2 linked regions of the Homo sapiens genome follow. The protein of the gene in region 2 interacts with the protein of the main gene of each other region in a pairwise test. Each region holds a gene or a part of one and is shown on either strand. Other genes may lie near its edges.

Evidence for each region.
Region 1: the proteins of ING4 (region 2) and NAV2 interact in binary tests that used the Homo sapiens proteins (3 or more experiments, as listed by UniProt).

The regions. Positions count from the first base shown.
Region 1 is NC_000011.10:19,719,337-19,722,836, forward strand, and holds part of NAV2 (neuron navigator 2), read left to right. Parts: intron 1-3,500. UniProt on the Homo sapiens protein: Possesses 3' to 5' helicase activity and exonuclease activity. Involved in neuronal development, specifically in the development of different sensory organs.
Region 2 is NC_000012.12:6,656,620-6,660,119, reverse strand, and holds part of ING4 (inhibitor of growth protein 4), read left to right. Parts: intron 1-3,320; exon of another isoform or gene 3,321-3,321; coding exon 3,322-3,393; intron 3,394-3,500.

The DNA.
Region 1 (3,500 bases), on a different chromosome or scaffold from region 2:
GCAGAGGCCAAGGGAGGTTATCACTTGGAGGCAGTTTTACGTGGTAAATTCGACTTTATTGAGAGGTCAGAGTTTGCATCTAGGCTTTGGGCAAATTATAGAACATCCCTAAACTTCAGTTTTGTCATCTTTGAAGCAGAAATGGTGATGCTTATAGGTTGGGGGTGAGGGTTCAGTGAGATATTCCAGGTAGGTTCCTGAACACAGTGTATGGCACATACTAAGCTAGGAATATATAGTATTGCCTATTTTTGTTACCTAAGGTCAGATCCAAGTTTGGAAACTATGTCTGCCTCATTCCAAGCTCACGTTCTTTCCACCCTACCTCTCTGCCTCCCAAGTACGCAGCTGAGTACATGAAAAGACAGACGGCTTGCACCATGAAAGTGGAGGGCATAGCAGGGCTTTGGTTAGATGAATGGGTAAATTAAGAACAACGTCATCCAAAGAAGTCATATCTCGAGTTGTTAATTGAAACCTTCACAGGTTGGTCCCAGACATGCCATCTTTATAACAGTAACCAAGCTGAGGGATCCGCTACAAACCAAACTTGTGGGAAGCTTCCTTTGTACAACTAGTCTGAACTGGCACTGTAGAGGTGGTTGAGTGGAGCCGGCCAATCTGAGGGCCTAGCCCAGGACAGGACCAAGAATGGAACATTTTCATTGACTGGGCTTCTTAATGGTTCCTCATTGTTCTGAGGGCAGAAGGAAAGCCCTTTTTTCTCCCAGCAGGCATGGTTGTAATGAGAGCTGGACCTTGTGATCAGTTGGCCATTAAGGTGCCCCAAGGCATGGCCAGCTGCCCAATGGTGCTTTACCAATAACCACAGGCCAAATTCAATGACTATTCTGTCTCTTGGTCACATTTTTCAAAGAGATGGACAATGTGTTCCTAGAATGGCTTGGGCAGAATGGGCCATGTGATTTTGGGAACAAAACTTAGCTAGGCTTTTTGTGCTTTAATCTACACAAGACAATAGTGAGTGACACAAAGTTTTTTGCAGGAACCCCCATTCGCCCACACAGAGCCAGAGAATGACTCATGGCTTAGTGCCCCCTTTCCCAGGGAATACAGATCCTCTCTTGTGTTTTGCAAACAATGGGCCCCCAGCCTCAGAATATTTTGCCTCTTCTTCCAAGTGAAACCTCAACACCTTCAGTGAATTTTGGGTTATTCCAATCCTTCCGTTCATCTTGGTGGGACAGAGGATAGGGTAGAAATGGGGTCTTAGTCAAGATAATTGTGATCCCACTTTCAGCGGTCTTTGGAAGACTTTGAACAAAATTAGCTACTCATGGCAATGTGGCACTTTAAAAATAATTATAATACTAGTCACGGATATCGATTGAGCACAGCCTCTGTATCAGCATAATGCATAGCACCAGATATGTATCATTCATTTAATCCTCACAACATCCCATGAGGTAGATGCTACTTCCTGAAGAGAACTGGAAATGACCACTCTAGGACTTAGCAACTTTGGTTCTAATTCTGTCTCTTTAGTCACCTTGCTACATGACCTTCAACAAATCACATTTTCTTTCTGAGCTTCAGTAGCCTCACCTATAAAATGGAGAAGATAGTACCTGCTGTACCTTCTTTGAAGTTACTATGAAGATTAACACAGGTAATTATTGTGAACAAGGCACCTGTTTAAGCATCTTACACTTTAGGTAGCCCTTGAGGAAACCAGGGCTGACAGAGGTGAAGCTACTTTTCCAAGGAGCACAGCTGGTAGGTAGACCCAAATATTTGAACGCTTATCTGTTTGACCTTTGAAGTCAACCTTCTTAAATAGCAAGTGTGAAAGCACTTTGAAAAAATATCTGAAAAAATGCTGTTACTACTGAGTCTAAGTAAATCACTTTCAAATTTCCTTTAGCTTGGTAATACATATGCCATTTGACTCCTCCCCCTGCCCTAGAGTTTGGAAATATTGAAAATACTCTTTCAATGTTAAGTAAGTATTAGTTGCTTATAGTTGCTTAATCATATTGGTTGAACCCTTTTGGGATGTTTAAAATTTCAAGTCCTCTGAGGCCACAAGGCCCACTAAACGTCATTGTTGAGTGTTAACTGGCCGGGCTGATTCTAGACAGAGGAAGGAGAAAATGAGGAATTTGATTCAAAATCACTTGTTGGCATGAGGAAGCAATCAGATAAGTTTAGATTATGAATCATTATTTAAGACAACAGGCCAGGGATCTTCAAAAATGTCAGTGTCATGAAAGACATGAAAAAGTTTTAAAGCAGGTGAAGGACTCTTCTAGAAAAGAGTACCAAAGCTATGACAACCAAATCCGATGAGAGATTCTTGAGTAGCTCCTGGATGAGGAAAACCATAAATGCTACAAAGGTCATTTGTGAGAAAATTGGAGATATTTGATTGTAGATTGTGTATTAGATAGTATTATTCTATCCATTTCAATGGTATTGGGGTTATGTAAGGAAATGTCCTTTTTCTTGGGAGCTATATGCTGAAATATTAGAAGGGAAGTATCTTGATGTCAGTAAGTAACTTAACTCTCAATTAGGAAAAATAAGGTGAGAACATCTGCAGAAAGAAGAAAGAAAATGCAAAATGTTAACAACTGGTGAATCTAGGCAAAGATATATGTGCACGTCTTTCAACTTTTCTGTAGGTTTGAAATTTTTAAAAACAAAACAAAGTCCTGCCTGAATAGTATTTGTCACCGATGCCCCTGATATTTATGAGAACATAAATGAAATAGGAGTGTGTGTATGTACTCACAATAGCCTGGCCAAATTTGTTTCATGAGGTTTAAGTTCTGGACTCTTTATCTTCTTTCTGGTATAGTGTGAAAACTTTGGCTTAATTCCTTGTTCTTTCATGAGAATGGTTGCTGACATTTTCTGGAAATAAATCACAAGATTCAGTTTCATTTGGTAATCTTTTATAAAAATCTAAGGTGTTTCCAAGGTTGCAAATACAAAATAAATTTTTTAAATGAAGTAATTTTTTAAAAAAAATTTAAAACCTCTGACTGAGCCCTGCTGGTCTAGGCACTGAGAAGGTAAGGAGTATGATTGGAAGCAAGCTTTTCTCTTTTGCCTGACTGAATCCTCCCACACTTTACCCACACAAAATCAGTTTAGTGTTACCTCCTCCAGGAAGCCTTCTGCCACCACCATGGTCCTAATACAGTGTATCTTCTATGTGTTCCATAGCCTGGCCATTAGCCCCTCAGCTTGGACTGCGATTGCTTATTTTGCTGGACCATGACTTCCATGAGGTCAGGGCTGTGTCTCTCCTGATTCCTGCTGGCACAGGATCTATACATAATAAGTTTTTAGTTAATATTTGCAGAAGAAAAGAAGGGTAAGGGGAGATAAAAGAAAGCATTGGAAAACAGTAGTAAATAGATATTGAACTCGAGCTGTGGATGGATCTTGCAGAACTCCCTCTTAGGATGTGAACTGAGAAGGTCATGTGATGGTGGGTGGCCAAGCGTAGGAGACAGAGACACAGAGTGGGC
Region 2 (3,500 bases):
GGGTGACAAATATTCATGCATTTATTCAAGTATTTACTGAGTACCTGCTCTTTGCAAGTCATAATTCTAAACACTATGGAAACAGGAGAGAATATGATAGCCATGTTCGGCCTGGGGAGACAGATACCAAATAACTAATTACACATTATTTTTTTTAATTTTTTTGTTTTTTGAAACAGTCTTGCTCTTTTGCCCGGGCTGCAACCTCTACCTCCCTGGTTCAAGCAATTGTCCTGCCTCAGTCTCTTGAGTAACTGGAACTACAGCCACAGGCCACCATGCCCATCTATTTTTTTTTTTTTTTTTTGAGACAGAGTCTCGCTCTGTCGCCCAGGCTGGAGTGCAGTGGAGCGATCTCGGCTCACTGAAAGCTCCACCTCCTGGATGCACGCCACTCTCCTGCCTCAGCCTCCCGAGTAGCTGGGACTACAGGCGCCCGCCACCACGGCCAGCTAATTTTTTTGTATTTTTAGTAGAGACGGGGTTTCACCATGTTAGCCAGGATGGTCTCAATCTCCTGACCTCGTAATCTGCTCTCCTCGGCCACCCAAAGTGCCGGGATTACAGGTGTGAGCCACCGCGCCTGGCCTAATTTTTGTTTTGTTTTGTTTTTGAGATGGAGTCGCACTCTGTCACCCAGGCTGAAGTGCAGTGGTGCGATCTCAGCTCACTGCAACCTCCACCTCCCGGATTTAAGCAATTCTTGTGCCTCAGCCTCCCAAGTATCTGGGATTACAGGTTTCACCATGTTGGCCAGGCTGGTCTTGAACTCCTGGCTTCAAGTGAGCCACCCGCCTCGGCCTCCCAAAGTGCTAGAATTACAGGCATGAGCCACCGTGCCTGGCCCTAATTTTTGTATTTTTAGTAGAGATGGGGTTTTGCCAGGCTGCCAAGGCTGGTCTTGAACTCCTGGCCTTGAGTGATCCACCTGCCTTCCAGAGTGCTGGATTACAGGCATGGGCCACCGCACCCAGCCAACTAATTACACATTTATTTAATTACAGTTGGATAAGTGCTTTAAAAAGGTGGCTAGAATACCTTGACATAGATCGAGGGCAGTTAACAGAGTCTGGGAAAGTTGAGTTTGAGCTGAACTTTGGAAGAACGAACAGGAATTTAATAGGCCAAGAGGGATGGGGTGGATGGGATGAGGAAAAGCGAGCGGTGCATTCCAACTAGAGAGAACAGCATGTGGAAAGCCAAATGGCAGGAGGAGCACAGGCCAGTTTGAGGCAGTGCGAGGAGGCCAGTATGGGCAAAGCAGAGCACAAAGGGAGACTGACATGAGTTCAGGCTGGTGTGAGGTAAGCAAGGGCCAGAAAGCGCAGAACATCTTCAGAGCAGTAGGAAGTGACCAGAAGGTTATAAGCGGGAGAGTGACTTGATTAGGTTTGCATTTTTTATTTTTGTGTTTGTTTTTGTTTTTGTTTTTTTGAGTCAGTGTCTTGCTCTGTCATCCAGGCTGGAGTGCATTGGCGTGATCTCGGCTCACTGAAATGTCCACCTCCCAGGTTCAAGGGATTTTTGTGCCCCAGCCTCCCAAGTAGCTGGGATTACAGGCATGTGCACCAAGCCTGGCTAAGTTTTTGTATTTTTGGTAGAGACAGAGTTTCACCATGTTGCCCAGGCTGGTCTTGAACTCCTCAGCTCAGCTGATGCGCCCACCTGGGCCTCCCAAAGTGCTGGGATTACAGGCATGAGCCACCGTGCCTGGCCAGGTTTGCATTTTTTAAAAAGGACATTCTGGCTACTATATGGAAGTAGATTGGAAGTGTTATGTGTATAATAGAGGATACCAGGAGACTATTTGTAATTTGAGGACAAAGAGCTTGGAGGCAGAGATGGAAAATAAAAGAAAGGGGCCCGTCTTAGTGGCTCATGCCAGTAATCCCAGCACTTTGGGAGATCAAGGCGGGCGGATCACCTGAGGCCAGGAGTTCAAGACCAGTCTGGCCAAAATGGTGAAACCCTGTGTCTACTAAAAATACAAAAATTAGTCGGGTGTGGTGGCGCGCGCCTGTGGTCCCAGCTACTCCAGAGGCTGAGGCAGGAGAATCACTTGAACCCAGGAGGTGGAGGCTGCAGTGAGCCAAGATCGTGCCACTGCACTCCAGCCTGGGCAACAGAGCCAGACTCCGTCTCAAAAAACAAAAAAGGAAAAGAAAGGGAAGAGCTTTTTTTTTTTTTTTTGGAGACAGAGTCTCGCTCTGTCACCAGGCTGGAGTGCAGTAGTGCAGTCTTGGCTCACTGCAACCTCTGCCTCCCAGGTTCAAGTGATTCTCCTGCCTCAGCCTCCTGAATAGCTGGGATTACAGGTACGTGCCACCACACCTGGCTAATTTTTATATTTTTAGTAGAAACAGGCTTTCACCATGTTGGCCAGGCTGGTCTCGAACTCCTGACCTCGTGATCCACCCGCCTCAACCTCCCAAAGTGCTGGGATTACAGGCTTGAGCCACCACACCTGACGGGAAGAGCTTATTTATAAAGGAAGGTCACTGAAGGCGAAAAGGGTGGGATAGCCATGCAGAAATGGAAAGGTTTTGTAGAGAAAGAGTTAAGCATGGCCTGTCATGAGAGAACTGATCCATCCTGTCACAGATAAATCCAGAGGTTCAGAGGAAGGAAAACTGAGCTGCACTTTATTTTTTGTTTGTTTGTTTGTTTGTTTGAGATGGAGTCTCACTGTGTCGCCCAGGCTGGAGTGCAGTGGTGCGATCTCGGCTCACTGCAAACTCCGCCTCCCAGGTTCATGCCATTCTCCTGCCTCAGCCTCCTGAGTAGCTGGGAGTACAGGCGCCCGCCATCGCACCTGGCTAATTTTTTGTATTTTTAGTAGAGACGGGGTTTCACCATGTTAGCCAGGATGGTCTCAATCTCCTGACCTCGTGATCTGCTCTCCTCGGCCTCCCAAAGTGCTGGGATTACAGGTGTGAGCCACCATGCCTGGCCATTTGTTTGTTTTTGAGACAGGGACTTGCTCTATTGCCCAGGCTGGAGTGCAGTGGCTCAATCACGGCTCACTGCAACCTCTGCCTCCTGGATTCAAGTGATTCTCATGCCTCAGCCTCCCAAGTAGCTGGGATTAGAGATGCCCACCGTCACACTAGGCTAATTTTCATATTTTTAATAGAGATGGAGGTCTCGCCATGTTGGCCAGGCTGGTCTTGAACTCCTGGCCTTGAGTGATCCACCCCCTTGGCCTCCCAAAGTGCTGGGATTGCAGGCGTGAGCCACCATGTCCGGCCTGAACTGCACTTTAAAAGGAGCTGTAAGGCCTATGCATAGTCAGTCCTGTGATTGTTTCTCTCTCTTCCCTAGGTATTGAAAACCTTCCCTTTGAATTACAGAGAAACTTTCAGCTCATGAGGGACCTAGACCAAAGAACAGAGGGTATGTATAGAGTAAAAAGTTTTTGTATCTAATGAGTGTGTGTAATCATTTATTTTTCTACTTGATGTTACCGTATCATCTGGTATGATCTGGAGAACTGTGGCTTC